Linked DNA regions of Homo sapiens. The protein of the gene in region 2 interacts with the protein of the main gene of each other region in a pairwise test. Each region holds a gene or a part of one and is shown on either strand. Other genes may lie near its edges.

The links.
Region 1: the proteins of FAM221B (region 2) and KRTAP13-1 interact in a two-hybrid assay, tested with the Homo sapiens proteins (one large-scale study listed by BioGRID).
Region 3: the proteins of FAM221B (region 2) and TRIM50 interact in binary tests that used the Homo sapiens proteins (3 or more experiments, as listed by UniProt).

What each region holds. Positions count from the first base shown.
Region 1 is NC_000021.9:30,394,403-30,397,348, reverse strand, and holds KRTAP13-1 (keratin-associated protein 13-1), read right to left. Parts: upstream 1,319-2,946; 5' UTR 1,263-1,318; coding exon 744-1,262; 3' UTR 527-743; downstream 1-526. UniProt on the Homo sapiens protein: In the hair cortex, hair keratin intermediate filaments are embedded in an interfilamentous matrix, consisting of hair keratin-associated proteins (KRTAP), which are essential for the formation of a rigid and resistant hair shaft through their extensive disulfide bond cross-linking with abundant cysteine residues of hair keratins.
Region 2 is NC_000009.12:35,818,645-35,822,298, forward strand, and holds part of FAM221B (protein FAM221B), read right to left. Parts: intron 2,985-3,654; exon of another isoform or gene 2,798-2,984; coding exon of another isoform or gene 2,794-2,797; intron 1,357-2,793; coding exon 1,246-1,356; intron 751-1,245; coding exon 553-750; intron 366-552; coding exon 246-365; coding exon of another isoform or gene 202-245; exon of another isoform or gene 1-201.
Region 3 is NC_000007.14:73,321,583-73,325,236, reverse strand, and holds part of TRIM50 (E3 ubiquitin-protein ligase TRIM50), read left to right. Parts: intron 1-431; 5' UTR 432-449; coding exon 450-848; intron 849-3,654. UniProt on the Homo sapiens protein: E3 ubiquitin-protein ligase that ubiquitinates Beclin-1/BECN1 in a 'Lys-63'-dependent manner enhancing its binding to ULK1. In turn, promotes starvation-induced autophagy activation.

The DNA.
Region 1 (2,946 bases), on a different chromosome or scaffold from region 2:
TTACCAACAAATATTGGGTGACTTCAAAAGTTACTTCAAATCACTTTTGTTTCTCTTCAATTCCATTTTTCTTTTATGTATATCTATAACCATATTGTTCTAAATAGTATTTTTTTCTCTGCAGATTCCTGATATAACTATCAACTAGTTTGCTACCTTATGCTTGTTGGCATAGACACAAGAATCCACATTTTATAAGGGGATCAAGCTAATTCCTGATTCTGATATTTTAATGAATAAAAGTCTGTAAATTTAGTAGACTTCCACTACCTGTAGTTTGAATAACAAAAATCTCTGAGGCCCCCAAAAGTTTGTCTGAATCGCAAACTTCATATGATTTTGAAACCTATTCCTATATATATACACCAATTGTTTCATAATAATTGCCTAATACATCACAACCAAAACCCTAGCAATATAAAACCACCACAAACATAGCTGAATATGAGACCAATGGATTTATTGGATTAAAATGATTTGACTTTTTATACAATTGTGGAAGAAAATCGAATAATATAAATTCTACTTTTAATGTGTATTTCAAGATTTATTTTGAGCTAGTTCTCCAATTACAGTTTTTCAGATGAAGCCTGCCAGCCAGTATTTGGGGACAAAGACAAACTGAGAACTTGATAATTATAGAATAAGAGGCTAATTCTTTCTGTACATGATGAAGACAATAAAGGTTATGAGTAGAGGCATTGAAGGCATTAGCCAACAAAATCAGCAATTTAACAAGATGATCAATAGTAGAAGCCTGATCCACAAGTTGGTCTGTAGCAAGAAGACTGGCAGCTCCTAGAAGCCAAGTAGGTTGGGCGGCAGAATCCAACGCCATAGCCCAGGGAAGGGAAGCCACAGCCTCCATAACCCAGGGATCTGAAGCCACTGGACCCACAGCCCACTGAGTAGCAGCTCCTCGATCCATAGCCCAGGGAGCGGCAGCTGCTGGATCCAAAGCCTAGAGACCCAGAGTAAGTTGTCTGGCAGGGACTGCAGAGCAAGGAGGTTCTGGGACGGTAGCAGGAGGTCTGGCAGGGGCTGGACTCCACATAGGATGTCTGGCAGCTGGTGGGCTCCCAGCAGGTCTGCTGACAGCCCCTATAGAGAGAGGAACCCAGCTGGCACGTGCTGGGAGAGCAGAGGTCAGTGCTGTAGACCTGGTTGCTGGGGTAGGAAAAGCCACAGGAGGAGGCTGGGTAGTGCAGGTAGCCACCACAGGAGCGGGAGGAGAAGTTTCCAGAGCAGCAGTTGTAGGACATGTTGATGGGAGATGTGAGTTCAGCTGAGTTACACTGAGAAGATTCTGAGTTTGCATGCCACATCTGGACAGGACCATTTATATACGTTCAGCCGTGGGTGTGGCACCTTACAGGGTCATCCTTCACACATTTAAGCTCCCACATTTCATATAAGCAACTTAGTAATCTTCTTTGTCATTGCAGTTAACTAACACCCTTCATCTTATATTTATGGAAGAACTCCTTTTGTTTTTACAGCTCTGCGTCAATGAAATGCATTTATGTTACAAATGCTATGACAGTATGTGATTAGTCCCTACTCCATTATGTCCAGGAAAACCCCTCTTATTTTCTCTGCCCATGATTTATACATCTGCTCCTGTTTTGGCTGGGAAATTCTTTCTGTCTTGGGTGGGGATAGCAATGTATTCATCTTTTTTTGTCAGTGGCCTAGAGGCAGAAATCTTATTGTTCACACTCTCCAAAATAGTTTGCCATCTGTTATTTACTATAATCAGTGCTTGTAAGTCCAGTCTCGAGGGCCTATATAAAAGTAAGCCAAAGGAATTGAGAGATAACTAGACATAGATATCATCTTGAACAAATTTTTTTAAAAAATTAGTATTTAGAAAAAAGAAATCAAAACAAAAGCAAAAAATAAATAAATACAAATACAACAATAAGGACCCATGTGAAAAAAAGGAAAGTAGAAGACACTGCTGAGATGAGGTAGGAAACAAGTCAGAGTAGTCACAATAGCAGAAGGATGCTCAGGACTCCATCCTAAAAGCAAATCAAAATGCTTTCAAATAAACTTATTTGATGACTTTTGTATGATGCATTCATATTTGTAAGTGTTCTGGAGCCTACCTGTCTACAACACCTCTAAACCCCCACCTCAAAATGTTGACTGCCTTCTGAGCATTTGCGGGGTAACACCAGCTTCTATGTTTTTCGTGACTCTGTCCCAGCCCTCTTTAAAGAGGTGGATTTAGGTTTTGTGGTGTTGAAAAGTATAATTTGGAGATCCTCATTAAAAACACAATATTAGGAATATAATAATAGATATAAACATGGATATTAACTTAGAATAAAAACTTCCATAGTTAACAAAACCCAAGATGTCACAAAATCAAGACAATAATATACCTTTATCATCATCCTCATCTATAATCTTTTTCTACATTTTTTGGTTGCATAGTCGGTCTTTGATCATCTCTACACATGACAATGGTTTTGTCCACATGATTTTCTGTAGAACAAATGGAAGTAAAACTTGGTGTTTCTTTTAGAAATAGTACATCAAAAATACTTGAATTATTTTTTATGACACAGAAAAGTTTTTTTTTTTTAACATTGCCATTTGTTGTGAGCAACGCCACAGCTGTAACACCCTCTGTCATTTCATTTCAGCAGTGCTTCAAGCCTGAGATTGTGCGCCTCTTGTCCAGATGTCCCTGGTTCACCTCCCACCTGTATCTGTTGGCAATTTGCATGAGGATCGGCTGCAAACAGCTGTGGATCCAGGGTTGTAGGGGTCTTCTAGTTTGTGGCAGAGCAGTATCCTCGTTCCAATCCTTCTTCTTAAAAGGAAAACTATGGGCCGGGGGCTGTGGCTCACGCCTGTAATCCCAACACTTTGGGAGGCCGAGGCGGGCGGATCACAATGTCAGGAGATAGAGACCATCCTGGCTAACACGGTGAA
Region 2 (3,654 bases):
GGCCTAGAAGTCAGAGTTGCTGAGGATGGCTTCTCGGAGCACAGCCATCTCTGCAAAAGGTACATAGTCTGCTCCTGGGGGTGAAAACCAGTGCAGATGTGGGATGCAGGTAGGTGGGTGGTGGGGAGGTGGGCTGAGGGAGCGCGCTAGTCCTGGAAGGGATGGTTGAGGATGGGAGTGCCTTCCTGCCTGGCCTTCTGACTACAGACCCTGGAATGGCCCCCTGTCCCAGGTTTCTGCCTCACCGCGAGGCCTTCCTCCTCGTTGCCGGGTCTTCTGGGTGTCAAAGAAAGTCTCGTGTTCCTCCCAGCGCCGGTCACAGGCCGCACAGAGGAAATTAGACTCAAAACAGCCGCAGCAACAGCCTGGGGCAAAAGTGCAGCCAAGAAGAGTTTAGGAAATGGTGGTATCCCCAGGAGCTGACCACATTCTCATCTCTTCCTCAGTGACCGCATGCCCAAGGCTCTCATACCTGCTCTCCATCATTATCCCCAGATTGCATCCTATCCCCACCTACCCTGCTCCCAATACACCTCTTGCCCTAGAAGTTACCATGATGCCTGCAGGGATGGGGCCCAGTGGCTGCATGTTCTTCGTGGCTGTGTTTGCAGCGACATTGGGCCCTCCAGGCCTTGGGGTCAAAGGTGGCCCGTCTCTTGAGCCAGAACTCACCCACCTCCTCTGGGCGTGATGGGATAAAGCAGAACATGAAGCAGCGGCACTGGCTTACCTTGCAGGGCACCGATATGTCTGTGGGATTGGGGATGGATGGTAGGGTTAATCTGATAGGACCTTGCCTTCTCATGCCAACCCCATCCTCCATCCCCACCACCCCCTATGCACGCAGACATGCTTTTTTTTTTTTTGAGATGGAGTTTTGCTCTGTCGCCCAGGCTGGAGTGCAGTGGCATGATCTCAGTTCACTGCAACTTCCGCCTCCTGGCTTCAAGTGACTCTCCTGCCTCAGCCTCCTGAGTAGCTGGGACTACAGGTGCGTGCCACCATGCCTGGCTAAATTTTTTGTATTTATTTATTTATTTTTTAGTAGAGACGGTGTTTCACTGTGTTAGCCAGGATGGTCTCGATCTCCTGACCTTTGATCCACCCGCCTCCGCCTCCCAAAGTGCTGGGATTACAGGGGTGAGCCACCGTGCCCAGCCACATGCTCTCTCTCATACTTCCCAAGACATGACAGAGTACAGTTATTCCTCCACACTCGAGAGGGGCTGGTCAGTTCTCCCCTACCTGAGATGATCCGGTGCTCTCTCAACAAGTGTCCACAAAAGCATCTGGACTCATCCCCAATCCGGAAACAGTCCCATAGGTAATGGGGGCAGCGCCAGCCAATGTAGAGACCTAGGTATGCAGGATTAAAAGTGAGAAGTAAAAAAATTCTAAGCTCCCCCGAAGTGTTCTTACCTATCCCTTGATGGAGGTGAGGGGGTGGGGGGAACTTACCTCTCCCCACCCCCAGGTATCTTTATCTCCACCTGGAAGTCCTCACCTCTACCCCTTAGATTTTCTTTTTCCTCAGGGTTTTCTCATTACCCCAGAAGTGTCTTCAGTTCTCTTCCTACCCAGGATCTACTCCATCTTTGTCAGCCTGCCAGAGATGACTCAAGAGAGTGGTTTCTGAGCAGGAAGATTATAGATGAAATTTTGTTTGAGGATGAACATGAATCTCACTGAGTTCTCTGTGACCACAGGGATTCTCATCTCCTCTCCTCATCCCACTAAAGCCCAACTTTGCTTTGTTTTCTTGAAGTGTCTAAGGTGAGGGAAAGGGAAGATGATTGGCCAGATGTACAGACAATGGGATTGGCTCCTAAGGAGCATATTTATTGAAGGTCCTGAAGAGGAGAAGGAGGTTGGATAGCTCTGGTGCTGGAAGGTAGGAGGAGGGCTTCCTCTCACGTCTCCACGTTGGTACCTTAATACCTCCCTCTGTGTTCCTGGTGCTATTGTACCAATGCTCTCTGTGTACCTAAGAAGGGCTGCCAAAGGTTCTTCAAGGGTCAGGAGAAAGGGGTAGGTAGCAGTCATGAGTGGTGAAGACCAAAAATTATATATTTTGAGGCTAAGCAAGGAGGCGTGGAAAGGAAAGTGAGGCTAAGAAGTGTCCCTGAGAGTAGGCACCAGCAAGAGGTCACAACCCTCGAGAGCTGGTGTTCAGCAGTGAGGTCTGAATCCCTGGCTTCGTGACTAGTCTTGAGGTGAGGGTGGTGCTGTGCAACTGAGGGAGGATAACCAGATGGCACCTCCAATTCAGATTTTCTCATTCTCCATGAGAACTGAGAGTACCCCAACTTCTAGCCAAGAATCCTGTATGAGGCCCCATGCAGTGGGACTGCCAGGTGTAGGATTCTTAGTCCCAATTAAAGGCTCAACTGAAATGTCACCTCCACCAAAAAGGTGTCCCTGACTTCCCCTGTCTGTCTGGGCCCCTCCTATTGCCATCCATAGCTCCTTGTGCTACTCCTGTTGCAGTACACTGCATTATAATAGATCATTCCCTTGTATTCCTATTAGTCCATGAGTTCTTCAAGGGAGCTGTCTTTTCACCCGTATCTCTCATCCTAGCACAAGGCCTGGCACAAAATGGTTGCTGAGAGAACGTAGATTGCCTGATTAAACAATTGAGCTCATTCCTTCAAGAGGAAGAGAGAGCCAGTATTCAGGCATAACCCTGAGGTTCCATAACATGAATAAGGAGAGTGGCATCATCTGGTCTTTGACTGTGGTCAGGGCCACAATTCACAATTCCGTGCCTCAGATTAAGTTTTCTTGTCTTACCCATAGTCTGTCAGGATCTAAAGCCTGTCTAGATGTGGCTTTTGGCTTTGCTTCTTCTGTCTTGATGCTGATTGCCTGTAGTGCCAGTGCCCCCTTACACCAGGGAGGCTTTGTTGAGAGAGCAAGGTATAGGCAGTCACAATGCAGGTGGGCGGGAGCCAGGATTCCACTAGAGGAGTTCCGAATTCTGTCTGGAGTAGCAGGATACATTAAAAAAGCAGGAGGTGAGGCCCAAAGATCAAGGCCTGCTCGGAGGGCCGGGGGGCAGTCAAGTCCAAGCACTAGTGTAGGAATCAGTGCCCAGCATTCAGATGAAGAAGACTGGAGTTTGAACAGGGAGACTGGCAACTATACTTCAGATTCTGTTACAAGTGTTAGTGCTCTTAAAGTGGGACAATTGGAAGGTGGCTGTGGATTCCAGTGGGACCCTCTACTCTCTGTCCTGATTCCAAACTCCCTTCCTGTTGTGGGTGGACAAGGCCTGGCGGGGGAGGAGACATTATTTGGGATGCCATTTTGATTCTGTCTAACACAGTCCAGTTCCACAATCACATAATCACATTTGCATGATGACATCTCTTTATGCATAGTATGTCTCCATAAAACACATGGCTGTCTTTACAGGAACAATGTCTCCAGCCTAGCCCTCTCTCCTGAGCTTCAGACCCATATAGCCAGCTGTCTACTAGACTCTTGGGCCAGCATGTTTCATAAGCACTTCAAATGTCTTATGCCCAATTATTCCCTCCAAACCTGGCTCTCATCCTTTGTCCTCTGTTCATCCAACACATGCCTACCAAGCATCTACCCTTTTCTAGGCATTCAGTTAATGGCACCATTATCCTACCACTTACTTATGCC
Region 3 (3,654 bases), on a different chromosome or scaffold from region 2:
TTTCAACAGTTTCCCGAAAGTTTGGGAACTGATCTAGAAGGTGGGGAGCTTGCCTAGGTTTTGCTGTTCAGTTCTAGGTCCGGATGCATGCTGGGGCTGGACCTTGCATTATTAGTGTCACTGCAAATGACCCTGCAGATGGCCCCTTTCATGCTTGTCTCCAAATTTGAGTAAAAAATGTAGACACACACACACACACACACACACACACACACACACACATATCTTCAAGGGACCAGTTTTTTTCACTGCAGTCTTTTGTTTTACAGCTGCGGAAACTGGGGCCCAAGGTCATGTGGGTTAGGACTGGGATCCAGGACTCAAAGTGTTTCCTCTAAAATTCTGGTGCTCCTTAGGGTTGAGGGTGGTGGATGAGTGCTGGACAGGGGGAGGGGAGGGGACAGGACTGAGGTCGGATGCCTGTGTTTCAGCCCGGGCAGTGAGTGTGGATGGCTTGGCAGGTGAGCCTGCCAGAGCTGGAGGACCGGCTTCAGTGTCCCATCTGCCTGGAGGTCTTCAAGGAGCCCCTGATGCTGCAGTGTGGCCACTCTTACTGCAAGGGCTGCCTGGTTTCCCTGTCCTGCCACCTGGATGCCGAGCTGCGCTGCCCCGTGTGCCGGCAGGCGGTGGACGGCAGCAGCTCCCTGCCCAACGTCTCCCTGGCCAGGGTGATCGAAGCCCTGAGGCTCCCTGGGGACCCGGAGCCCAAGGTCTGCGTGCACCACCGGAACCCGCTCAGCCTTTTCTGCGAGAAGGACCAGGAGCTCATCTGTGGCCTCTGCGGTCTGCTGGGCTCCCACCAACACCACCCGGTCACGCCCGTCTCCACCGTCTACAGCCGCATGAAGGTGGGGAGTGAGGGTGCAGGGGCGGCTGGAGAGGCCCGCGGGGACCAGATCCTGTGCTCTCTGGTGCCATCACCTGGCACCAAAAGGATCCAGCTATCCTCGATTTCCCTGCAGCTGTGCCCTGGCGCATTCATTCCTTAGCGTTTGAGCTGCAGCTCAACCCAGGTGCCGGGGATTGAAGCCACACGAACAGGATGGGAGCTCCCTGGTGTCACGTGCTCACCCCTTCCTGTTTTTTTATTTGCAGTTCTGGTTTGTTCCTTTTTCTTTTCTTCCTTCTCCTTCCCTCTTCCCTCTTCCCTCTTCCTCTCCCTCTCCCTCTCTCCTTTCTTTTTTTTCTTTCTTTTTGGAGACAGCGTCTCACTCTGTTGCCCAGGCTGGAGTGCAGTGGTGTGATCATGGCTCACTGCAGCCTCCAACTCCTAGGCTGAAGCAATCCTCCCACCTCAGCCTCCCGAGCAGCTGGGGCTACAGGTGCACACCACCATGCCCAGCTCATTTTTCATATTTTGTAGAAATGGGGTCTTGTTATGTTGCCCAGGCTGGTGTTGAACTCCTTGGCCTCCAATGATCCTCCTGCCTGGGCCTCCCAAAGTGCTGGAATTATAGGCATGCACCACTGCCCTAGGCCCCTTGTTTGTGTCTGGACACTCCCCTGTTTGCACTCTATGGTGCATGAGGGTGGGGACTTCATTTTGTCCCCTGGTGTATTTCAGTGCCTGGAGCCATGCCTGGCACATTGTAAATGTCCAAAATGCTGAATCAGTGAATTCCTGCCTTTATAGGCCATCACCAAACCTAGCAGATCATTCTTTAAGACGAGTAATAATAATACCTGGCTGGCTGTTATATATATAAAACACCTGTTATAAAACACGTGACTGGGTGGCTTATGCCTATAATAACAGCACTTTGGGAGGCCGAGGTGGGTGGATCACTTGAGTCCAGGAGTTTGAGACCAGCCTGGGCAACATAGTGAGACCCTGCCTCTACAAAAGTTTCAAAATTAGCCTTGTTGGCCAGGCACAGTGGCCACTCCTGTAATCCCAGCATAAGGCTGGAGGGAACATCGGTGGGGGTGAGATAGGGCCAGCGAGGTAAGCTGCGGCTGGGGCATGGAGAGGCCAGTGTGACCCGGGAAGGGATTTGGAGTTTATTCACAGGATGAGGGAGCAAGGCGGAGGCTGGAGGGTTTTAAGCCAGTGATGAAATGCTCAGATCTCTCTGGCAGAGGGGAGCTTTGAGGGTGAGGCAAAAGGACAGTGAGAGATGAAGGTGCCAGGACCTAAGTCGATGGGAACTGGGACAAAGGCCTGGGGCAGACCAAAGACAAATTTCAAACAGAAAAAAACCCTGACAACTGTGTGTGGCAAGGAGGGTGAGGGACGGGAAGGTTGACTCCAGCTCTGTGATTCCCCCTTGCACAGAGGAAATGATCGCAGGGGAGGATCCGGCGTGGGCAGGTGGAGCCGGAGGTGCCTGGATATGTGCAGTCGGGTCGAGGGGTGTGCAGACCAGGACAGCGGTGGGGCTCAGGGCGAGAGGTGTGGAGGGTCCTTCCTCCTGGTGGTCACTGAAGTCCCCTTTGGTGGAGAAGACCAACCCAGGAGAGTCTACATAGTGATAAGGGAAGACACTGATGATGACCCCAAGGGGTACCAGGCTTAAAATCTGGATTGAGAGAGAGCCCTGAAAAAAGGGATAGAAAGAATCCTCAGAGCGGGAACACCAGCTGAGTGTGGCCTCCCGGAAATCAGAGAGACAGAGACTGAAGGAGATCACGTGTGTGAAATGTCTCTGAGGACTGAAAAGTGTTAGATGTAGCAGTAAGAACTGATTATCTTGGCAAGAGCAGGTTTAGGGGAGTATGGAAGGTGGAAGCTGACTGCAGGTGAGGAAGCCGAGTTTATGTTTTATTAGTTAATGGGAAGGAGGGAGGGAAACAGGCTGGGAGCTTATCTGTCCTTTGTGGTTAGGATCCAGCAGCCCAGCTTGGGTCCCTGTTTTAGATTTGGGCTTAATTTTGTTGTTGTTGTTGTTGAGACAGAGTCTCGCTCTGTCGCCCAGGCTGGAGCGCAGTGGTGCGATCTCGGCTCACTGCAAGCTCCGCCTCCCGGGTTCACGCCATTCTCCTGCCTCAGCCTCCCAAGTAGCTGGGACTACAGGCGCCCACCACCATGCCCGGCTAATTTTTTGTATTTTTAGTAGAGGCGGGGTTTCACCGTGTTAGCCAGGATGGTCTCGATCTCCTGACCTCGTGATCCACCCGCGTCAGCCTCCCAAAGAGTTGGGATTCCAGGTGTGAGCCACTGTACCCGGCCAGATTTGGGGTTTGATGATCCCGAGGCTCTTCTCTGTTGCAACACAGAATACAACTAAATTGCACTCCTTTATTGCCCTCTTTTAGGTGTTCCCGTTGCCTCCTGTTTATTGAGATTTTGAGATGCTCGATTGATGGGTGCATTGATTTGCATAACTTAGTTCCTCTCACGGGGAAGGAATGAGTCCCGTCTGTCTGCCTGGGGAGAGTGACATTGGAATGTCGTTCTTGGGCCGCTGTGAAATATTCTGATGCCTCGTTCTCCAGAGCAAGGACTCTGTCCGTTTATGCCAGCAAGTGCTTGATTCTTTACGCAACTCCCTTCCTGAAAGCCCCTTGCAGCTCTCTGGTGCTTGGGCACGATCCAAGCCAAAAATTCTGTATATTGCATGGGTACAAACCGACGGGGGCTCTGGTCAAATCGTGCAGTAGATGGTGGTCCAGGGGTCCCGGTTGGCACCCCCAAGGCTAGGTCAGGTTTGGGGC